6 separate regions of the Homo sapiens genome follow, and all the other regions are linked to region 6. Evidence: fine-mapped expression QTL. A gene starts in region 6. Each other region holds a variant in brackets. All regions are shown on one strand. Distances are from middle to middle. Region 1 overlaps PCNX1 (pecanex 1). Region 2 has its middle 180 kb from the start of SIPA1L1. Region 3 overlaps PCNX1 (pecanex 1). Region 4 has its middle 24 kb from the start of PCNX1. Region 5 overlaps PCNX1 (pecanex 1). Region 6 holds the start of PCNX1 (pecanex 1).

Region 1 (4,000 bases), 67 kb after region 6:
ACAGTTAGTTGATTAGTTGGCACTCATTTTGTCACATGATTCAGGATGACTGGGGGAAAACAGGATATTGGGGTATATCTTTAACTTTTTCACTTCTAAGATAATCTACAGTTTCCCTACCTCTCGCTCATACCTTCCCTATCCAAGATCAGAACTTCAGACCGTCCCCATGGGAATATGAGGGCTGGGTAGAAGGTAGAGGAACTAGTTACAGGTATTTCTGAATTTCAGTTTGTCATGGGGATAGAAAACTGGATAAGATTTACAAAGAGGGAGTATAGGTAGAAAAGTGAAAAGTTCTAGCTGGGTGCGGTGACTTACCCCTATAATCCCAGCACTTCGAGAGGCCAAGGTGGGAGTATGGCTGGAGGCCAGGAGTTCAATACCAGCCTGGGCAACATGGTGAAGCCCTGCCTTTAAGAAAAAATACAAAAAATTACCTGGGTGTGGTGCAGTGTACCTGTAGCTCAGCTACCCAAGAGGCTGAGGCAGGAGGATTGCTTGAGCCTAGGAGATCAAGACTGCAGTGAGCCATGATTGCAGCACTACACTCCAGCCTGAGTGACAGAGCAACACTCTGTCTCAAAAAAAAAAAAAAAAAGAAAAAGTGAAAAGTTTTAAGATGTGAACCCTGAGCCTCTTTAGTTTAAGAAGTCCAGGAGACTGAGTAGGAACAACTAGTGAGATCAAAGGAAAACCAAGACTGTTATCCACCTGTGTTCAAGGAGAATGGATTGACCAGCTTTGTCAAGTGCTGCCGATAGGTCAGGTGACATGCAGACTGAGACTTGACCATTGGATTGAACAATTTAGGGGGTGTTGGTGACCTTGATAAGCACGGTCTTAGGGGAGTTGAATTGGAATACAAAGAGAATTGGAGGAGAAGAATCAGACAGTGAATACAGACAACTCTTTCAGTGAATTTTTGTAAAGGTGATAGCAAGCAGGAGAAGTAAAGATGAGGGATTTCGATTTTGTAAGATGTTGTAAGAGATATAACAACATGTTTGTATAATTGATTATTATCCATAATCAATTGATAGGGATGATCAGAGAGAGAAAGAAGGTATGATTTTTGTTTATAAAAGTAACATATATGTTAACTTTAGAAAATATAGTTAAGTATGAAGAAAAAATTTAGACCTCTGCCACTGATAAACTTTTTTTTGCATATCATTTTTTCATATTTTTTTGCTTTGATATAATTCAGTGGTTTTTAGAATATTATGCATCCATCACCACTATCTAAATCCAGAACATTTTCATTACTCCAGTAAGAAACCTGCACCCATTACACTCCCCATTTCCCCTTCAAGCAGCCCCTGACAACCTCTAGTTTACTGTTTCTTTGAATTTGCCTATTCTGGACATTTCATATAAACACAATTATATGTGGTTTTTTTTTTTTTAATGTGTCTGGCTTCTTTCATTTACCTTATTCTGGCATGTATCAGGATGTTATTTCTTTTTATGGCTAACTGTGGTATATCACTTTTCGCATTTATAAAAATATACGCCCATATACCATTAGCATTCATTTAAACTTACAGAACTGGAATTGTGGTTTTTTTTGTTGTTTTTTTTTTTTTTTTTGAGAGGGAGTCTCGCTCTGTTGCCCAGGATGGAGTGTGCAGTGGTGTATTTTTAGTAGAGATGGGGTTTCACCATGTTGGCCAGGCTGATCTCGAACTCCTGACCTCGTGATCCACCTGCCTCGGCCTCCCAAAGTGCTGGGATTACAGGCGTGAGCCACTGCACCCAGCCAGTGCCACCTTTTTCACTTAATTATTTTCTCATGTTATTACATAATCTTTGAAAATGTTTTTAGTGCCTGTATGAAATTATTAGTGGACCACATATTCAATCGTTATTTATAGGACATTGTTATACTTTTTGTGCTTTAAGAACTTTTATAATAAGGTGACATGAACAACTTTGTGCTAAAAACCTTGTACGCATATTTGACTCTATCCTTTAGCAACAATTTCTTACCTTCAAGATAAGAATACCTTTTCAAGTTTCTTGGCCATATTGCCAGATTGCTTTAAGAAGGTTACACCAGTTGGTACCACCATGAGCAGTATGTCTTTCTTATTCTAAACGCCACTAATAACAATTATTTTAAAAAAAGTTTGATTCGATGAAAAATGTATCTTTTTGTGTTGATTTGAGCCTCTTAACTTTGATATAATCTTTTTCATATGGGTAACAGTAAGAAAAAATATATTTACCTGAAAATTTCCTGAAACCACCGAAATTCTTTCTGACAAAATTAAACCTTTTGTGGTATATTTGTTTAGCAGTATCGAAAAAAGTGCATGTATTAAAGTAAGTTTGGCTGTGTCTTTTAAAATGAAATACTTACATTTCTGTTTTATTAATTTATCAGAAGGAAGTTGGTTTTGATCATTAGCATTAAAAAAACCTTTTGTTA[T/C]CTTAGATTTAGTGATTTTCAACTACTTGCTCAGAGTCGATAAGTTTTCTGTAAAATTCATATCCTTGAAATGTGAATATCACACCAACCGATAATTGCTTATTAGAGATAAAGAGTTTTTAGAAATAACATTATAATTTAATATTACAAAACGTACAATGCTAGCTTTTAAATTTTGATATTTAGAAGATATAAGAACGCAACTACAGTAGCAGCTGTGTTGGGAAAATAATAAAGAACGGGTTTTACTTATCTTGAAAACTTTAAAATGTAAAATAAAGTGTAATTGGACATTTATACACTATAATTTTTATGGTACACTCCAGAGGCTATCCGTGAATTTTTAATTAATTAATCATAGCTAAATCTACATTTAGATTTTTAAAGATTACATAAACATTTTTAATAACTCATTCCTTTCTTTTAATCTTAGGGGGAAATGTCTGCTTTGGTCATTGAGATTCTACTGGGAAGACTCAGATTTACTATAGAATCTGTTATTTTACTTTGTCTATCCAGCTATGACAAGACAATAATTTTTCTTTTTATTGAACTAACAGCAGGTTCAGATGTCCTTGTCTGTCAAAACATATATTTAAAAATCAGCTATTTTGCAGTTTGGTTGTCAAGCTATATTCCAAGATAAATTACAATGTAGGTAGGTAGGTAGATACATTGATTTATATCTATATTTACATTTGTATATCTAGTATGTATGATAAGTCACTAATCACTGGTCTGGATGGAGGGTTAAAGCAGTGGTCTTACAGATACAAGAAGGTAAGTATTTTTTTCATGAAGTATTTTTTAATTGCTATACCAATAATGAAAGATAAAATGCAGTATTTTGCTCTGTAATTATTGCTGTTTTTACCATTCTGAACAGCAAGAGGATGTCTTACATCATTATATCTTGTTTAGGCATTGGTCAGCCTATTTTCGTTTGTTTGTTTCTGATTACTCTAGGTTTTCTTGATTTGTGAAATAATCGTATTAGCTTTTTGAAAGGATTTTAATATTGTGTTAGTAAGGTAGAATAATGATAGCCATCTTTAATTGTGACGGCATTGTGTCAAGCAATATATGTCATTAACTCAGTTATTCCTTGCCTGTGACTCAGTGAAGTTGATGTCCCATTTTGCAGATGAGGAAACAGATTTACAGGGGGGTAACCCAAAGTTACCAAGTTAGTAAGTTGGAGATAGAGCTTGCATAGAAATCCAGGCCTATTTTAAGTATAGTCCTTTGTTGCTCTTTCTTTCTTTCTTTCTTTTTTTTTTTTTTTTTTGAGACAGAGTCCTGCTCTTTTGCCCAGGCTGGAGTGCAGTGGTACGATCTCGGCTCACTGCATGCTCCGCCTCCTGGGTTCACACCATTCTCCTGCCTCAGCCTCCGGAGAAGCTGGGACTACAGGCGCTCGCCACCACGCCCGGCTAATTTTTTTGTATTTTTAGTAGAGACGGAGTTTCACAGTGTTAGCCAGGATGGTCTTGATCTCCTGACCTTGTGATCCACCCACCTTGGCCTCCCAAAGTGCTGGGATTACAAGCGTGAGCCACTGCGCCC
Region 2 (4,000 bases), 240 kb after region 6:
GTCAATGATGCTGCTATTAGTACTCCCTTTTGGCAGATGAGAAAACTGAGGCGTAAGAGGTGAAGTAACTTGCTGTAAGTTCCCCAGCTAGTGAGTAGCGCACCTAGATTCCAGCCAAGCAGTTGGCTTCAGAGGCTGCTGCTGAGACCTCCTCACTGCACACAGCCAGGCACCCACCCAGGCACCCACCCCCTTCCGATGCCATCTGATAAGCAGGGACCTATTACTGCTCTGCTGGGAGCTGAGTCAGAGATGGGGCATACTGGGGGCTGGGGAATGATTACTTCTTTGTTTCCCCCTCTTATTTTATCCCTGGAAAGCCTGGATCAAACCAGGAGGTAGAGAGATTTCTTCAGTGGTGGGCCCTCCACAGGAAAGTCCCCACCATCCCTGTCCTCCCACCATCAGTAACCACACCATTCCTACCCAACTGCCTGATTGGGGATGAGGTCTGGGGCTCATGTACCTCTGCATCCCAAACAAATAGCTACTGTGCATTCCTGTAAGTCCTCTGGTTGAGAATCTGTAAACAGACTCATTGGTAAAGTCTTTCTTGGAAGCTGACCACATGACATGGGAATGTTCGTAGAAGATGCACGTAGTCACCATGAGGAGGGGAAAGAACCCAGTCATCCTATTGTTTTAGACAGGGCTTAACAAAAATGTCTATATAACAAAGCCTGCAAAAATTTAGAAGTGAAACATTTGTGGTTTGAGTTTTTGCGTCAAGGTCCACCACACTTCCTGACAAGTCAGCTCCTTGTCTGGGTAGCCCTTGGATATCAGATCTTCAGGAGAAGCTACTGCCTCTTCAGGTCTGCAGGTTTCCAAATATCAAATTTCTAAAGCATACAATGCCCACAGTTTCACCACTTCCTTTGGTGTCAATGCATTTCATTTTGAGCAATGGCAAGAAAGGCCCCTATGAAATCTTGCTACCACCACCAACAGGAAACATAGCAATCTGTAGCTATAGTCCCCTCATCTGGAGACTGGCCTTGGTAGGCTCACTTCATGCCTTCCTTGCTGGGTTTTGGAAGATGTTGCAATTAACACAAGGAAAGAAGGCAAGCTCTTACCCCTCCTTCCCCTTCACTCAGTAGCAGCATGGTGGTTGCAGAAATAAAGCACTCAGTTGTTCTTTCTGCTTGCAATTGTTCAGATGCAAGGGGAAAAAGTAAAAACTGAAGCTTGCTATGACCTCTGTCTTAAACCATTTTGTGCAGCTATAAAAATTGCTGGGTAATTAATAAAGAACAGAAATTTATTTCTCACAGTTCTGGAGGCTGGGAAGTCCAAGATCAAGGTGCCAGCAGGCTTGGTGTCTGGAGAGGGCCACCCCCAGGATGGTACCTTACACATTACATCTTCCGGAGCAGGGGCAATCACTGTTCCTTACAGGACAGAAATGCAGAACAGAGGGAACCCACATCCACAAGCCCTTTTTAGACTGGCTTTAATCCACTCATGCTCCACCCTCATGACCTGAACACCTCCCAGTAAACCCCACCACCCAATGCTGTTGCATTGGGGATTAAGTTTCCAACACGTGAGTTTTGGAGGGAACAAAAACATTCTGACCATAGCAGCCTCTCCCCAACTTTTACAAGAAGGCTGGCATCTGACGCATTTCATAGCCTGAGTATAAGATGAGGTAACGGAGGGCCCACATCACCTACATCCTGTAAAGCCTGAGGCTCACCAAACCACACAGGGGAGTATGAACACAGAGGACACCTCCCACTGTTGTTCTCTTGTCTCCTGACTCAAACAGCCCCTTCCTTTCAGCCCAAGACATTGAGCCATCCGGGGCTTGCTGTGGTATGATACAAAATAAATATTTGGTCTTTGTCCCTGGTTCCTGACACAGCGCCTCAAAATCCTTGGAACTGATAGTCCTGTATGCTAATGAGATGAGTCATGGAGAGGCCCTAGATAGCTTCAGGATGGGGGCTGGTCACTAGAAAAATCAACCATGTGATTAGAGGATTAGAACTTTCAGCCCCACCTCCTCACTTCTGACCTTCAAGGAGAGGAAAGGGATTGGAGATAAAGTCCAATCACTAAATGACCAATGATTTCATCAATCATGCCTGCATAATTCAGACCTTGAGCAAGAAAGAGGTCAAAGCCTGAGTTACTACCTTTAGTGAGCTTAATTTCCACGTAGGAAAGTAAGAGAAGCACAGCAGCAAAGCTGTGTTTAAAATCCCCGCCCCCGCCCTCCCACTCCCTGCAAAAACACTCCTAAATGAAGTCAGATAAAAATCTCCCAAAAAAATCCTAAGTGAAATCAGATGCAGTGGCTGAAACGTAATTCCAGCTACTGGGGAGACTGAGGTGGGAGGATTGCT[T/C]AAGCCCAGGAATTTGAGGCCAGCCTGGGAAACATAGAGAGACCCTATATCTTTAAAAAATTTTGTTTTAATAAAAACAAGAATAAAACCTAAATGACAGGGATTCAGAGAACTTCTGGGTTGAGAAAAACATTGCTTTAAGAGGCCAAGGTGAGAGAATCACCTGAGGCCAGGAGTTCAGGACCAGCCTCTAAGAGACGGGGGGGTCTCACTCTATTGCCCAGGCTGGAGTGCAGTGGCACAATCTCAGCTCACTGCAGCCTTGACCTCCTGGGCTCAGGTGATCCTCCTACCTCAGCCTCCTGAGTAGCTGAGACCACAGGCATGTGCCACCATGCCCAGCTAACTTTTTTTATTTTTAGTGGAGATAAGCTTTCACTGTGTTGCCCAGACTGATCTCAAACTCCTGGTCTTAAGCAATCCTCCCACCTAAGCCTCCCAAAGTGCTGGGATTACAGGCGTGACCCACTGTGCCCAGCCCCTCAAACAAATTTTTTTTGTTTAGCCACATAGTGGCATGTGCCTGTAGTCTCAGCTACTTGGAAGGCTGAGGCCGGAGCATTGCTTGAGCCCAGGACGTCGAGGCTACAGTGAGCTACAATTTCATCACTGCACTCCAGCCTGGGTGACGGTGTGAGACCCTGTTTAAAAAATAAAAGAAAGACATTGATGCGCTTCAAGGATGGTGCATCTGAAAGACAGAGCCCCAGGACGGTGGTGGCTGCCACCCTCCCTATGCAGCTCTTCCATTTGGTTGTTCCTGAATTGTATCCTTTATAATTAATGGGCAAATGTTAATTAATACGTTTTCCTGAGTTTTATGAGCTGTGAATTATCAAAACTGAGGAAGGGGTTGTAGAAACTCCCAAATGTATAGTCAGAAGTATGGGCGGCTTCTTGGACTTGTGGCTGGCATCTGAAGCAGGGGCAGTCTGGGACGGAGCCTTGAACATGCACTGTTGGCTCTAACTCCAGGAGTTAGAACTGAATTGACTGTTGGATTCCTGTTGATGTCAGAGTCACGGGTCACGAGTGTGGAACACTCTCCACACACTTGGTATCAGAAGTGTCAGAAAAAAGACACTACACCTGTTTTCTCACCAAACAGTGGAAATGCTAAACTATAAGCTATTTCCACTGCATTTTTTTCCCCTCTTGCAATTCCACTCTTCCAGGAAGCTTGGGTGATCAGCCTAGAGTGTTACCTACACTCGCCAACAGAGTCAGCTGAGTTGACGCTCTGGGCATGACAGTTCTTTATTGTGGGGCTGTCATATGTGTGCCATTTTCAGCAGCATCTTTGACCTCTACCCACTAGATGCCGGTAGCAATAAGTCCCTGGCTGCCTCAACAAAATGTGGTCATTCCCTTACGACAAAAACTAGACCTTACAAAAAAGGGTAGTCGAGCCTGAGGCCTGAGACCTGGGTCTAGTCCAGGCTCAGCCCAAGCTCTCTCTGTGACTTTGGGCAGGGCTACCAAGCCTCTTGGTGTCCTCAACTGAACAATGGAAAAGTCAGACCAGATCAACCTGAGTTCCGTTCAGCAACAACGTGCTACACTGCTGTGTTTGCCTTACCTTCCTATGTGGAAATTAAGCCCAGTAGAGCTAGTAACTCAGGCTTTGACCTCTTTCTTGCTCTGTC
Region 3 (4,000 bases), 200 kb after region 6:
GTGAGCCACCACACCCAGCCCAGAAATATAATTTTTTTTATTCCAAGTTGTACATTATTCCATTTGTTCATATTATTTTATATATATAAATATATATTTTATATATTTGTATATATACTTTTAAAACTTGATAATTCAACATAAACATTTTAATATATTAAGGATTCTTTGAAAATATAATTTTTATTTTTTTTATTATTTTTAATTTTTTGAGACAGAGTCTCACTCTGTTGCTCAGGCTGGAGTGCAGTGGTGCCATCTCGGCTCACTGCAAGCTCTGCCTCCTGGGTTCACACCATTCTCCTACCTCAGCCTCCCGAGTAGCTGGGACTACAGGTGCATGCCACTGCGCCCAACTAATTTTTTTTTTGTATTTTTCGTAGAGACGAGGTTTCAACCATGTTAGCCAGAATGGTCTCGATCTCCTGACCTTGTGATCCGCCCACCTTGGCCTCCCAAAGTGCTGAGATTACAGGCGTGAGCCACCACGCCCAGCTGAAAATATAATTTTTAAAGGCTAACAATATTTAACTATTATAATTAACTTCTCCCCTGTTGGACAATTACTTGGTTTTTCTTCTAACAATGTTGTAATAGTCTTTGTATATAAGTCTTTATAATCATTTATTATTTTCATAGGTTAGAGACTTTAAAAATGAAATCACTAGGCCAAAGCCTATGAGAATAAGACTCTTGATATATAATGCCAAAAATCTTTCCAGAAAGGTTTTTTTTTTTTTTTAAACCAGTTGGTACTCTCACCAGTCCTATCAACCTTCCCAGCTTTGAAGATTGTCAGTTCCTGCCTCTGCTCCTTGCTTGCTCCAGTGGGGGCAGGAGAAGGGGTGGTCTTTAATTTTATTCTTTTAATTTGCATTACTCTGATACCTAAGAATGGAAGTTTTTAATGAATTTATCAGCAGCTCCTCTTTCTAAAGTGCCTAGTTACATCTTTTGCCTATTTTTCTATTTGGTTATCTTTTTCTTACTGATTTGTGTTTTATATTCTGGATTTGAGCTCTTTCAGTTTTCTGTACCACAAATATCTTTTCCCATTCTGTCCCTTGTCTTTTCATTCTCTTACTGTGAAGAGTTACTTGCCTTCTTCTGATGAGAAGTCCTTAGTTTTAGTGAGAACAACTTACTATTCATTTATTTTATCATTAGTACTTTTTATGTCCTAATTAAGAAAATTTTCCCTGTCCCTAGGCCCTCAAAGTATGCTTTTATTAATTTCCCTTTGACATGAGATCTACAATCCACCTGGTGTGCAGAAGGAATCAGGTCTCAACTGTCTCCATATGGCTGGGCAGTTGATCCAGCCATATGAAGAAGTTGATCCTCTCCCCAACTGCCCCCCTGACTGCTTCACGTGAATCAAATAAAGTTCTAAGACATTTACTTAAATGTAAAGACATTTATTAAATTTAAATATATATATTTTCAATGGGATTCAAGTGAAGAGACCTGATAGATCAACATTTTGGATGTTCAGAAATACGTATCTGAGATCTGTTTTCTTTTGTGGTTTTTGTAATTTTTTTTTTATTTGCTGAAGTTTTTTAAAGTTCAAATTCTGTGGCATATGAAAGACATAATGAATAATTAAATATTTTTTATTTAGGTGAAAACCTAAAACTTTCAGTGTTCTTTAAATGTACTTTTTGTTCTTACCTTGATTAGCTCTTTTTATTTTTAGGTAAAAAGTACATGTAGCTATGTTTCAATGTAATTAATTTTACATTACTCTTATGAGTCAAGAAAAAGACAAGTCTGAAGAATCATATCAAGCCACTTGAAAAAGGATGCAGAAGAACCTGCTTTTCAGTGCCACTGATCATTCCGATTTAGTAGTGATCCCCAAATGTATATGAAAATTACAGCGTGGTATTCACTGTCTCTCTATAGACAGTGTAGCTTTTCCTTGGTAGAAGTTGAAAGGGCAGTAATACTATACTTTGAGAAATAGTAGTTATAGAGCTTGCCACATAGTAGGGCCTTAATAAATATTTCTTTTTAACTGGCAAAAATTATATATATTTATGGTATACAACATCATGTTTTGATATGTGAATATATTGTGAAATGATTAAATTAAGCTAGTTAACCTATCCATCACCTCATATACTTCTTTGTGATAAGAATGTTTTAGAGCTACTCAACAATTTTTAAGCATACAACACATTATTATTAACTCTAGTCCCCAGGCTGTACAGTAGACCTCCAGAGCTTGTTCCTCTTGACTCAGTGGAACTCTGTACCCTTTGACCAACACCTCCTCTTCCCCAGCCCCTGGCAACCACCATTCTACTCTCTGCTTCTGTGAGTTCGGGGTTTTCAGATTCCACAAGTGAGATCATGCAGTGTTTCTTAGTAAATCCTTCTGACTGTCTCATTTCCGTGAGATATTTCATTTCTGATATATTATGGAAGTATTCTTGTTATTTTAAAAT[G/A]CTTCTGTGAAACATATTTTAGGATTTATCCCAACCTTAAGTCCTGATATTTGCTGTAAAATATTTAATTATTAATTGTCTTTCATATGCCACAGAATTTGAACTTTAAAAAACTTTAGCAAATAAAAAATATATTACAAGAACCACAAAAGAAAATAGATCTCAGATACGTATTTCTTTTTCTTAACTTTAAAAGTTTTAGGCATAAACGTTAAGTTCTGTCAGTTCACCAATTAATTGCTTAGGGGAAAAAGTCTTAGAAACTGCAAAACAGAAGTATTGTGTCTGAGTCATTCTACTTTGAGTGAGTGCTGCTGTTTCTCCTCCTAGGCACTAGCCACAGCTCTCACTCTGTGCAGTCGGGCCTGGTCAGACAGTCTCCTGCCCGGGCCTCAGTAGCCAGCCAGTCTTCCTACTGCTATAGCAGCCGGCATTCATCCCTCCGGATGTCCACCACTGGGTTTGTGCCTTGTCGGCGCTCTTCTACTAGTCAGATATCGCTTCGAAACTTGCCATCATCCATCCAATCCCGACTGTCGATGGTGAACCAAATGGAACCCTCAGGTCAGAGCGGCCTGGCCTGTGTGCAGCACGGCCTGCCTTCCTCCAGCAGCTCCAGCCAAAGCATCCCAGCCTGCAAACATCACACTCTCGTGGGCTTTCTTGCGACAGAGGGAGGTCAGAGCAGTGCCACTGATGCACAGCCAGGCAACACCTTAAGTCCTGCCAACAATTCACACTCCAGAAAGGCAGAAGTGATTTACAGAGTCCAAGTAAGTAAGCCCAGAGGTGGTCTTGTGCTGTTTTTGTTACTTATTTGTTTTTATTTCTTATTTGTTGAATGAAGGACTGTTGTGAATACACACCTTATCTTAGTCTCAGGACTAGAATATTTTTGAATGTTGGGGAAAAATTTCTTCAAACTTAAAAACTGAAAGCAAACAGTTTTTGTGATGGTGATATATGTTCCTTGTTCAGCCACTGTCTCATGGACATTGCAGTGAGGTCTACCAGAGGGCTGAAAAGAATTCAAGATGTAGCTCTTAAGATTTTTTTTTTATTCCATTATAGGAATTTAAAAAGTAATTCCTCTCTGTGAAAAGCATTTTGTTTGAGATTACATAATTTTTCATCATCAAGAAAAAAATGAATTGGAAATGTTTTTATTTACCATGTAGATTGTGGATCCCAGTCAAATTCTGGAAGGGATCAACCTGTCTAAAAGGAAAGAGCTACAGTGGCCTGATGAAGGAATCCGGTTAAAAGCTGGGAGAAATAGCTGGAAAGACTGGAGTCCGCAGGAGGGCATGGAAGGCCATGTAAGTTCTTTTACAAGCTGGCGGTCTGGGGCTCTGCCTTTTTTGAAGTCCGCCTCACTTGGATGCATGGTTTTAGCTGATTTATACTTAAACGTATAATTTTCAGACAAAATTGCTACTACTAATCCTAGGTAGGGGTAAGAGTTTGTGAGTATATTCCAGGTCTCCAGTGCTAACTTCTTGTTTTATTCTGAATCATTAGGTGATTCACCGATGGGTGCCTTGCAG
Region 4 (4,000 bases), 24 kb before region 6:
TGTCATGGTCTATGCCTTCTTCATGTACAAACATCATACAGTTAACCCACCACCATGATAGCATGTACTTTCTGTTGTCGTGTTGTTTCCTAGTAAGGTGATTGATTTGCATTGCTTCAACCGGGCTCCTCTGATTGATCATTTTCTAAACAATGGATGCATTTACAGATGGTTGCCAGGTTCAGCAGAGGAGGCTGTAGCCATCAAATAGATAAAGTAGGCTCACCACATTCTGGAATTGAAACCGTGATCTTGGTTACATCAGAAGGTGCTCTAACCAATTGAACAAACCAGGCCTCGATGAAGCAACTGAGAGCTGGGGGATTCTTATGCAGAACAGAGCATTCATACTTCCGCTTCCATATGTACCACATATGTGTTCCTCTCAACTGGTTTTGTACATTTCCATTGCCTTAAATGTATTCACATAGCACTCTTTAAATACTCGAAGTATAATGAAGAAAAGAGAAGGAACTGAAATGGTTCCATTCCATTTCTCACTAGGAAGTTGATTCTGTGCACTCTATTTCTGACTATTTTCTATCAGCCTATCACTGTGGGATGTAGGAGGGAGGAACAGGACACAAAATGTGGCATAATTAAAAAAAGATGAAGAAGAAAATTAAAATCATTAACCATTAGTAATCATTTTTAATGTGCATCATTTTTAAAATTCGAGAATAACCCAAGGAGGTAGGCATAATGTTTAGACATGATTTACCAGTGAAAAGAAGCTTAGAGAAATGAAGTAACGGCTGGAAAGTCACAGCTAGAACTCAAAGTGAGAATTCCCACCCAAGAAATCTAACTCCAGATTCTACACTCCTAATCTCCGCTATGTTGCTTTCCTGAAATGAGGAAAGAATAAGAAAGGAGAAAATTAGTGACAGGAAAGAGAGAGCTGAATAAGAGGGGACAAAGAAAGGAGGAAGGAAATCAAGCAGTTTCTACACTCTGGAAAATAACGGAGCAGAATTAACAGAAGAGAACTACTTTCCTCAATGCTCATTCTACTGTTAAAAAAAAAATAAGCCAGGCAGTGCAGCACACGCCTATAATCCCAGTGACTAAGGAGGCTGATGTAGGAGGATTGCTTGAGCCCAGGAGTTTGAAGCTAACCTGGGCAACAGAGCAAGACCTTGTCTCTAAAAAAAATTTTTTTTAAGTAGCTGCATTGTCTTGTTTTTCTAACTTTGTACAGTGCTTAGAGTAACACTATCTAAACAGCATGTGTTCCATAAACCCTGTTGACTAACCGCTGGATTTGCACAAGAAACACCGGAAGACTCTTAGGCAAGAGATATATTGTAAGATCCGTGACAATGAGATCTCTTGGATGACATGTTTTTCATTGTTTACTGCGTGTCTAAAATGAGAAGGTCCTAAGAGCCAACCTTTCATTGGAGTGGCCCCCATAAAACTGTCTGCTGTGTAAGGGGTGTTGGAGTGACTCTCCATCACAGGTTCTACTGCAGCTCTAGGGTGGGTCCTGAGTGATGTGAACCCCACCCCCATCCCCGTTGCTAGTGAATGGGTCTGGGGTAGGCAGGCCAAGGCCAATTGGGACCAATGAGTCATAAAGAGTTTTCTAAACACTTC[C/T]GGAAAATATGCTTTCTTACCCTTAAGAAAGAGTCACAGGAAGTTAGTAGGAGGTGAAAAGGGAAGCAATTAACCCAGCAACTACTGGAAGCCTTCCAAAACCCAGGGATCTTTCCCCAGAATGAAGTCAGCATTGGGGATAGCACAGCAGAGAGATGCAAAGAGCCACTGGATCCACCAGTCCTGAATCCTACCCAGCCTTTGACATCCTGCATTGGAGCCAATACATTTCTTTATGATAAAAGCTAGTTTGAGGTTGAGTCAGGATTTCTGTCCCATATTTTAAAGTATCCTACTGATGCAGCCTGGTAAACATAAAACATGGTAAACACATGTGGCCTGATTTTATTGGCAGCATGGTTAACTGGTTCAAGCTATGGTTCAAGCTATTCTTTCCCTTCTGTGATTATGACCATACGCTCTCATGAAAGGTGAAGCCTTTCTCCTGCCATGGCTACCTGGCTAAAAAAGCTCAGCCAGAGTCTCAATTCCTATAACCTCCTTCCCATCCATCCATTCATCCATCCATCTATCCATCCATCCATCCATCCATCCATCCATCCATCCAGCTGATGGATTAATAAATTTATATCAAGCACTTACTCTGAGCAAGGCATTTTGCTAGGCACTGTAAGGCCATCAAAAAGGAAAAAATAGGCCGGGCGCGGTGGCTCACGCTTATAATCCCACCACTTTGGGAGGCCGAGGTGGGTGGATCACCTGAGGTCAGGAGCTCGAGACAAGCCTGACCAATATGGTGAAACCCCGTCTCTACTAAAAATACAAAAATTAGCTGGGCTTGGTGCCGTGCACCTGTAGTCCCAGCTATTCGGGAGGCTGGGGCAGGAGAATTGCTTGAACCCAGGAGGCAGTGAGCCGAGATTGTGCCACTGCACTCCAGCCTGGCGACAGAGTGACACTCTGTCTCAAAAAAGAAAAAAGAAAAAAAAAATCAGATGCTCTCTGTTCTCAGAGACCTTATAGTGTAAAAGGGGAGAAAAAATATGTATACAATTAACTACGGCAAAATGTAGAAAACTGTTAGGTGTCACTAGATACAGTGCCACAGTAGATCAATGAAAGGAAGAGACCATTTCCAGCTGGGAAGGTTAGGGCCATTTTTTGTAAAGAAGATGGATTTTATGCTAGATCTTGGATGATCCTGAACTAGCACAGAGGAAATGAGCATTCCTGGCAGAGAAGAGCAGGAGAAAAGGCCGAGCAGAAAATCACAGAGAAAGGATGGGAAACAATTGGCTGGAAAATAAGGTTGGAACTTGAAAGGGTCAGTGAGGCCAGATAGTAATAGGATATAATTCCAGGTCGAGATCTTAGTCTGTGGGCAGTAGGTTGGGTTTTGAGTCAGGTATGAGCTGAGCAATAGAATGTGGTTTTGAAAGAAAGGAAGAGTATTCAAGACAGAGCACAGCAGGAGCAGATAGAAGAACCCAGGTGGCTGGTTTCTCTGACACAGGCAGGAAACATTCTTCTGCAATGGTGAGCCAGGCTGGATGATAGGGGAGACTCTACTTATGAGGCAGGAGGGTCTAGAATGAGGGACAGTTACCCAGAGTCTGGGAGCATCAAGCCACTCCTTCATGAGTCAGGCCCAGCAAGCTTGCTTATGAGCAGTGAGATTAGAAAACCCACGGGCAGAACCATGTGGACCGACAAGAAATAGGTGAGCGCCATATGTTTCCAGGGGCCAGACAGGTGAGCATCTGAGCAAAGACAGAAGCCAAAGCGGTGCAAACCTGGAAGGACAGGAGCAAGGCAGCTCAGGAGCTGACTGGGCAGTAGTATCGAAGGCCCAGATACAGTGTCCAGGCAAAGGGCCAAGAGCCCAGTCAAGGATGACAGCTGTATTGCGGAGATAAAGCGAAGAAAGCACAGGTTTCAGAGTCAAACAGACTCAGGTTTGAATCCAAGACTATCTTATCTGCTGTGTAAACTTGGGCAAGCCACTTAACCTCTCTGAGGCTTCTGTTTCCTTGGCTAAAAAGGAACATAATAATGTCTACCTCAAAGAGTTGTTATAAGGAGTATAAATAATATATGAAGAGTGCCTGGCACTTGGAGCACTCAATAAATGAGAGCTATTGTTATTATCAATATCACCCTCATTATTTATATTGAACTATAGAGATTGCTGTGGCTCAGGCTGAGAAATAAAGCAAGTGAGAGGAGTCTTTGCCAAGAACAGAGAAACCACCAGGAGGGGGAACGGGCCTCTGCAGAATTGATCACAAAAGCTCTCTGGCTTATGTATTACTCATTTGTCACTGTTGATTTATACATTCATTCTTATACTCAGTAATGCCAACACCATTGTCACCATTGCCATCATTCCCTCCAACAAAAATAAGAAGAACCTTAGATTTCTGTTAAAACAGTTCAACAG
Region 5 (4,000 bases), 31 kb after region 6:
TTTTTTATGGTTACATAGTATTCCATGGTGTATATGTGCCACATTTTCTTAATCCAGTCTATCATTGATGGACATTTGGGTTGGTTCCAAGTCTTTGCTATTGTGAATAGTACTGCATTAAACATACGTGTTGCATGTGTCTTTATAGCAGCATGATTTATGATCATTTGGCTAAGTACCCAGTAATGGGATGGCTGGGTCAAATGGTATCTCTAGTTCTAGATCCTTGAGGAATTGCCACACTGTCTTCCACAATGGTTGAACTAGTTTACAGTCCCACCAACAGTGTAAAAGTGTTCCTATTTCTCCACATCCTCTCCAGCACCTGTTGTTTCCTGACTTTTTAATGATCACCATTCTAACTGGTGTGAGATGGTATCTCATTGTGGTTTTGATTTCCATTTCTCTGATGGCCAGTGATGAAGAGCATTTTTTTATGTGTCTGTTGGCTGGATAAATGTCTTCTTTTGAGAAGTGTCTGTGTATATCCTTTGCCCACTTTTTGATGGGTTTGTTTGATTGTTTTCTTGTAAATTTGTTTAAGTTCTTTGTAGATTCTGGATATTAGCCCTTTGTCAGATGGATAGATTGTAAAAATTTTCTCCCGTTCTGTAGGTTGCCTGTTCACTCTGATGGTAGTTTCTTTTGCTGTGCAGAAACTCTTTAGTTTAATTAGATCCCATTTGTCAATTTTGGCTTTTGTTGCCATTGCTTTTGGTGTGTTGGTCATGAAGTCCTTACCCATGCCTATGTTCTGAATGGTATTGCCTAGGTTTTCTTCTAGGGTTTTTATGGTTTTAGGTCTAACATTTAAATCTTTAATCCATCTTGAATTAATTTTTGTATAAGGTATAAGAAAGGGATCCAGTTTCAGCTTTCTACCTATGGCTAGCCAGTTTTCCCAGCACCATTTATTAAATAGGGAATCCTTTCCCCATTTCTTGTTTCTGTCAGATTTGTCAAAGATCAGATAGCTGTAGATGTGCGGTATTATTTCTGAGGGCTCTGTTCTGTTCCATCGGTCTATATCTCTGTTTTGGTACCAGGACCATGCTGTTTTGGTTACTGTAGCCTTGTAGTAGAGTTTGAAGTCAGGTAGCATGATGCCTCCAGCTTTGTTCTTTTGGCTTAGGATTGTCTTGGCAGTGCGGGCTCTTTTTTGGTTCCATATGAACTTTAAAGTAGTTTTTTTCCAATCTGTGAAGAAAGTCATTGGTAGCTTGATGGGGATGGCATTGAATCTATAAATTACCTTGGGCAGTATGTCCATTTTCACAATATTGATTCTTCCTATCCATGAGCATGGAATGTTCTTCCATTTGTTTGTGTCCTTTTTTATTTCGTTGAGCAGTGGTTTATAGTTCTCCTTGAAGAGGTCCTTCACATCCCTTGTAAGTTGGATTCCAAGGTATTTTATTCTCTTTGAAGCAATTGTGAATGGGAGTTCATTCATGATTTGGCTCTCTGTCTGTTATTGGTATATAGGAATGCTTGTGATTTTTGCACATTGATTTTGTATCCTGAGACTTTGCTGAAGTTGCTTATCAGCTTAAGGAGATTTTGGGCTCAGACGATAGGGTTTTCTAAATATACAATCATGTCATCTGCAAACAGGGACAATTTGACTTCCTCTTTTCCTAATTGAATACCCTTTATTTCCTTCTCCTGCCTGATTGCCCTGGCCAGAACTTCCAACACTATGTTGAATAGGAGTGGTGAGAGAGGGCATACCTGTCTTGTGCCAGTTTTCAAAGGGAGTGCTTCCAGTTTTTGCCCATTCAGTATGATTATTGGCTGTGGGTTTGTCATAGATAGCTCTTATTATTTTGAGATACGTCCCATCAATACCTAATTTATTGAGAGTTTTTAGCATGAAGTGTTGTTGAATTTTGTCAAAGGCCTTTTCTGCATCTATTGAGATAATCGTGGTTTTTGTCTTTGGTTCTGTTTATATGCTGGATTACATTTGTTGATTTGTGTATATTGAACCAGCCTTGCATCCCAGGGATAAAGCCCACTTGATCATGGTGGATAAGCTTTTTGATGTG[C/T]TGCTGGATTCGGTTTGCCAGTATTTTATTGAGGATTTTGCATCAGTGTTCATCAAGGATATTGGTCTAAAATTCTCTTTTTTGGTTGTGTCTCTGTCCGACTTTGGTATCAGGATGATGCTGGCCTCATAAAATGAGTTAGGGAGGATTCTCTCTTTTTCTATTGATTGGAATAGTTTCAGAAGGAATGGTACCAGTTCCTCCTTATACCTCTGGTAGAATTTGGCTGTGAATCCCTTTGGTCCTGGACTTTTTTTGGTTGGTAGGCTATTAATTATTGCCTCAATTTCAAAGCCTGCTATTGGTGTATTCAGGGATTCAACTTCTTCCTGATTTAGTCTTGGGAGGGTGTATGTGTCCAGGAATTTATCCATTTCTTCTAGATTCTCTAGCTTATTTGCGTAGACGTGTTTATGGTATTCTCTGATGGTAGTTTGTATTTCTGTGGGATAGGTGGTGACATCCCCTTTATCATTTTTTATTGCGTCTATTTGATTCTTCTGTCTTTTCTTCTTTATTAGTCTTGCTAGTGGTCTATCAATTTTGTTGATCTTTTCAAAAATCCAGCTCCTGGATTCATTGATTTTTTTTGAAGGGTTTTTTGTGTCTCTGTCTCATTCAGTTCTGCTCTGATCTTAGTTATTTCTTGCCTTCTGCTAGCTTTTGAATGTGTTTGCTCTTGCTTCTCTAGTTCTTTTAATTGTGATGTTAGGGTGTCAATTTTAGATCTTTCCTGCTTTCTCTTCTGGACATTTAGTGCTATAAATTTCCCTCTACACACTGCTTTAAATGTGTCCCAGAGATTCTGGTATGTTGTGTCTTTGTTCTCATTGGTTTCAAAGAACATCTTTATTTCTGCTTTCATTTTGTTATGTACCCAGTAGTCATTCAGGAGCAGGTTGTACAGTTTCCATGTAGTTGAGTGGTTTTGAGTGAGTTTCTTAATCCTGAGTTCTAGTTTGATTGCACTGTGGTCTGAGAGACAGTTTGTTATAACTTCTGTTGTTTTACATTTGCTGAGGAGTGCTTTACTTCCAACTGTGTCGTCAGTTTTGGAATAAGTGCAGTGTGTTGCTGAGAAGAATGTATATTCTGTTGATTTGGGGTGGAGAGTTCTGTAGATGTCTATTAGGTCCACTTGGTGCAGAGCTGAGTTCAATTCCTGGATATCCTTGATCACTTTCTGTCTCGTTGATCTGTCTAATGTTGACAGTGGGGTGTTAAAGTCTCCCATTATTGTGTGGGAGTCTAAGTCTCTTTGTAGGTCTCTAAGAGCTTGCTTTATGAATCCGGGTGCTCCTGTATTGGGTGCATATGTATTTAGGATAGTTAGCTCTTCTTGTTGAATTGATACCTTTACCGTTATGCAATGGCCTTCTTTGTCTCTTTTGATCTTTGTTGGTTTAAAGTCTGTCTTATCAGAGACTAGGATTGCAACCTTGTTTTTTTTGTTTTCCATTTGCTTGGTAGATCTTCCTTCATCCCTTTATTTTGAGCCTATGTGTGTCCCTGCACATGAGATGGGTCTCCTGAATGCAGCGCACACTGATGGGTCTTGACTCTTTATCCAATTTGCCAGTCTGTGTCTTTTAATTGGAGCATTTAGCCCAATTACATTTAAGGTTAATATTGTTATGTGTGATTTTGATCCTGTCATTATGATGCTAGCTGGTTATTTTGCCCGTTAGTTGATGCAGTTTCTTCCTAGCATCAATGGTCTTTACAATTTGGCATGTTTTTGCAGTGGTTGCTACTGGTTGTTCCTTTCCATGTTTAGTGCTTCCTTCAGGAGCTCTTGTAAGGCAGGCCTGGTGACAAAATCTCTCAGCATTTGCTTGTCTGTAAAGGATTTTATTTCTCCTTCACATATGAAGCTTAGTTTGGCTGGATATGAAATTCTGGGTTGAAAATTCTTTTCTTTAAGAATGTTGAATATTGGCCCCCACTCTCTT
Region 6 (4,000 bases):
GGAAAGGTTGGGATTACTTCCAAAACCTTCCCAGAGAGCTTTCCTGTCTCCTTTAGGGGAAACAAATGAAAACTTGACAATAGCTGGTATCTATGACACCAGCTTCAAGGCCACTATTTTAATTGTAAAATTGCATTATTTAATCATAATTTTGCTTTTAGATATACAAATATATTTTAAAGTATATTTTGTCCAGTGTTTACTCACAGCTCTCAATTTCAAGGTATCTTACTGGAACTCAGTGGCTTTGTGGTTATAAGGACATAAACAAATCAAGGCTAGGGATGGTGTGGTGTTCTACAGTGGTAAGCTACATTAGAATCCTCCGGAGGACTTGTTAAAACAGATTGCTGGGTACCACCCCACAGAGTGTCTATAGAATGATGCCCTAAGAATTTGCACTTTGACGAAAACTGGTCATGTATTTAAGCTGGTCACAGATAACCAGAAGGTGCTGAACTGTTCTTAATCAATTCAAACTTTTACCTGAAATGGATAATAAGGTGGAGAGCCTTGAGAAATGAACTTCCAAAGTTCAGTGCATGCAGTTAGCATGACTGCTGGTTTTAGAGTTCTCAACCACTTATTGCTTATGAGCAATAAGTGGCCATAAGCATTTGGCCAATCACTTACTTGAGTTTACAGGTTTTCTCATCCATAAAATAACAATAGCTGCTATGCTGCCCTCAAAGGGTTGTCCTGAGGTCTGAATGGAATGGGTGTGATAGTGTCTGAGCAACTATAAAGTGGTATGGCACTGGGAGGTATTGTAACGGTTTTTCATTACTCTTCTTAAAATATCACCAGTTTCCTTTGGCTCTTGTTTCCCTCATTAATTATAGCAACTGTAATCTGGGAATACACAGTACTTTTATTGCCATAAAAGCCAAACTTCAATAAACTCAAATTTCAAACTTTTCTATAAAATTTTATTCAGTGAGATCAGACACGCCTTATAAACATTACACAGAGCCAAGAATGATTCCGTTTTTACAGCTATAAAAAGAGATCTACAAGACCCTATTGTAATTTGGGGTGGCGTCACGGTTAATCTTTTTCAACCCTGTTTAGATTGGCCCATTAATAAAAATGGCTGCTAGTTACAGCACATTTAAAAATACAATCACCGCGTACAAATGGTAACCTGTCCACTCCATACTTCCATGTCCTGTGCCGCTTCTATTAACTTGTCTTTGGAAGTAGTAAATTCTCCCAGTCTGGACGTGGCTATTTTTTCTCACACACGGGCCAACACAGTTCTTGCTCAACTTGGGTGCGTTTATGACTTTTCAACAGTGTCATCAGCCGTACCTAACTCTTCCAGGCCTTCAGTATCTCAGGTGTTAGCTTCAGTTGTTCCTAGGTCTTTCACAAATATCATAAATGACAGGCAGGACGCTTTTCTGGAGTCAAGATCTGTTAGTTTCGGAGTCAGAAAGACCCCGTTTAGAGACTCGTAGGCGAACTTGCCAGGGGGCCTACCAGGGGCAGAATGGGGTCCTCCGGACCAGCCAGCCGCGTCTCAGCCACCTCCGCAGCCCCCGGGGCCCTGAACCCCGGCCGCGTTGACGCGCGCTTCTCCCGGACGTCGGCAGGAGGCGCCCGCGGCGGACCAGGCGCGGCGCGCACCGTAGCCGGCCCAGGGGGCGGAGGGAGCGGAGAGGAGGAGCTGGAGGGGGCGCGGCTTCCTCTCGGTCGCTCCCTGGCGCCGGGCCTCTTTCTCTGCCTGGCCCAGGGCTGGCGGCCGGCGGGGGTCGCGGCGGCGGCAGTGGGGGCGCTGGCGGGCCGCGGGTGGCGGGGGCCGGGCCGCGGCTCCGGGTGTTAGGAGACAAGATGGCGGCGGCTCTCAGAAGGCCGGTCTCCTCCTCTCCGCCGTCCTCCGCCCCGCCGCTCGCCGCCTCCTCCTCTCGGGTCTCCTCCTCCTCGTTTGCTGCCTCCTCCTCCTCCTGCAGCAGCACCAGCGACCGCCGAAGCGCCGGCTCGCTCACCCGGAGCTCCGGAGGTGGATAGACGGGGCAGCTGCAGGCTCCGGCGACCGAGGCCGAGCTGGGGCCGGGGCGGGGACGGCGGCGGCGGCGGCGGCGACGGCGGCGGCGCCGGGTGGGGATGGGGTCGCAGACGCTGCAGATCCTCCGACAGGGGGTGTGGGCCGCGCTCAGCGGGGGCTGGTACTACGACCCGCACCAGGCCACCTTCGTGAACGCGCTGCACCTCTACCTGTGGCTCTTTCTGCTGGGCCTGCCCTTCACCCTCTACATGGTGAGTGTGGGGGCGGGGAGCGGGTGGCTCCTTCCCCGCGAGCCGGTGGGGAGATGCTGGGGTCGCGCCCTCTTCCTCTTCCACGGGGTCTCGTCCCCCGGGGGCCGCCACCCTCTCGGTGTGAGGCTCCCCGCCCCCACTGCGTGCTCCCACTCCTCTCTTCGGGGCTTTCCTGGTTTCGGAGGTGACACGAGCAACGAGCCCACGGCAACCCGCGCCGGCCGCCCCCGCCCGCTCACTGGGAAGCGGCAGCGTCCTAGGCCCCTTCTCGGGGTTCCCTCCTGCGGCCACTCGGCTAGGCCGTCCCCGCCGGGGCCCCCCGCCCGTGGGGCTGTGTGGCAGGCGCCGAGCGCTCTGCGGCTTTAGGGGACGCCGCATCCATCCTTGGCACGCTGGGTTCCTCGGGCGCCCGGCATCCGGCACTGCCCGCCCCCGCCGCGGCCCTCGTCCGGGGCTCCCGGGAGAGGCCGCCCGCCGCCTCGCCGCTAATCCGCGTGCGGAGCCCCGGGAGCGCGGGGGACCGTGCGGCTCTGCTCCGAGTGTGTGTGGGGGTCGTCCGGGCTCGTCCTCCAGGGGTCCTGGGTGGTGGCTGAAAACCCGGCTCGGAACCCTCCTGCCTCTAAAAAACCGTTGTTGTGCTTCGCAGCGGTTCTTCTCTGTTCGGCCCCGTGGCCGGTGGCCGTGGTGCTTCCTGGCCTCCCTGGGGGGAGGGAGCGGGGAGATAACGGGGAATCTGGCTGGCATTTCAGCAGATTTGTTTGGCTTGGTTCAAGGCCTTTGGCGGATAGGAGTAGGGAGAGAGAGTACTGCCTGTTGCTGAATTCGGTGCGATCAGCTTCTCTGAATCATCTGTGTTTTTAAAGCAACATTGAAAGTTGTTAAGCGCAGTTTCTAAAGCACAGGTTAGGGTGGGGCGTTAGGGAAACTCGTGTGGACAGAGATGTTACTTAAGGCTTCATATAAAATTTTAAAGTAGTCAGAGGGGAGGAAAGGATCTGAACTTTTTATTTTAGGAGAATTCCTTTGAATGTATTTCTGCTAACTTTGAGGTTCTTTGTGGAGCTAGAGACAGGGTGCTGAGTTAGAAAATCCCGGAGGACCACTATGAGAAGTGCAAAAGGTGAGGACACCCAATTCTTCCCTAAGTGAAGTTCAGTTTCACTAATTGGCAGGAAAAGTGTCTGCTTGAGGGAAGATGTGCACATTCTCAAGCAGATTCACATTTTTCGTTGAAATTGTTTTGAAGGGACTTATTGTTTGAGGTTAAAAAAAAAAGCCATTAAGAAATGCTGATGGCTTGTGGCTTGTTTTATTAGGGGGACTTGTTCAGTCTTGTTGCATTCTGAAAATTTATCGTGAAGTATTATAATTTTCAATTAATTTTGGCCTAGGGAGTTCTATTTGCACTACTATACCTTCCAGGAATATGACATCATTAATGAACGGGTTAATTACTTTGGGTTTAAGAATCCTCAGGCTGTCACAAAATTTTCAAAGCAAATTTCTTCTATGTCCAGAAGAATTGTAGATTTAAAACTGAAAATGATTTTTGAGAGGTAAGGATTAGTTGCTGGGTCCAGTGTAAGATTTCTTTTTTAACACTTGTAGTAAACTGTGTGGTCATGGTTAAGTCTCTTTGTGTAGTTAGCAAATGTTACTGAAAGAATATTAGAGCAAATGGAAACCAGGACATTGAGTTTACTTCCTTCATTTTGGGAGTTCAGTTAAACTGAATTCTCAC

The links.
Region 1: its variant is fine-mapped to the expression of PCNX1 in whole blood (TOPMed, PIP 0.97).
Region 2: its variant is fine-mapped to the expression of PCNX1 in whole blood (INTERVAL, PIP above 0.99).
Region 3: its variant is fine-mapped to the expression of PCNX1 in whole blood (TOPMed, PIP above 0.99).
Region 4: its variant is fine-mapped to the expression of PCNX1 in whole blood (TOPMed, PIP above 0.99).
Region 5: its variant is fine-mapped to the expression of PCNX1 in whole blood (TOPMed, PIP above 0.99).

What each region holds. Positions count from the first base shown.
Region 1 is chr14:70,972,669-70,976,668 of GRCh38, forward strand. The region is part of intron 5 of PCNX1 (pecanex 1); the gene reads left to right. Among named protein-coding and RNA genes, the nearest start is that of PCNX1, 67 kb to the left of the region's middle. The variant T/C (reference allele first, on the strand shown) is at 2,435.
Region 2 is chr14:71,141,844-71,145,843 of GRCh38, forward strand. No RefSeq gene overlaps it. Among named protein-coding and RNA genes, the nearest start is that of SIPA1L1, 180 kb to the right of the region's middle. The variant T/C (reference allele first, on the strand shown) is at 2,355.
Region 3 is chr14:71,105,821-71,109,820 of GRCh38, forward strand. It overlaps PCNX1 (pecanex 1), which reads left to right. Exons shown (of 36, transcript NM_014982.3): 34 at 2,784-3,226; 35 at 3,632-3,772; 36 at 3,975-4,000. Among named protein-coding and RNA genes, the nearest start is that of PCNX1, 200 kb to the left of the region's middle. The variant G/A (reference allele first, on the strand shown) is at 2,454.
Region 4 is chr14:70,881,697-70,885,696 of GRCh38, forward strand. No RefSeq gene overlaps it. Among named protein-coding and RNA genes, the nearest start is that of PCNX1, 24 kb to the right of the region's middle. The variant C/T (reference allele first, on the strand shown) is at 1,600.
Region 5 is chr14:70,936,466-70,940,465 of GRCh38, forward strand. All of the region lies in intron 1 of PCNX1 (pecanex 1), which reads left to right. The region is part of intron 2 of LOC105370557 (a long non-coding RNA gene); the gene reads right to left. Among named protein-coding and RNA genes, the nearest start is that of PCNX1, 31 kb to the left of the region's middle. The variant C/T (reference allele first, on the strand shown) is at 2,049.
Region 6 is chr14:70,905,745-70,909,744 of GRCh38, forward strand. It overlaps PCNX1 (pecanex 1), which reads left to right and starts at 1,715. Exons shown (of 36, transcript NM_014982.3): 1 at 1,715-2,259. The coding sequence starts at 2,107. RefSeq lists silencers at 1,618-1,807, 2,028-2,367, 2,528-2,867.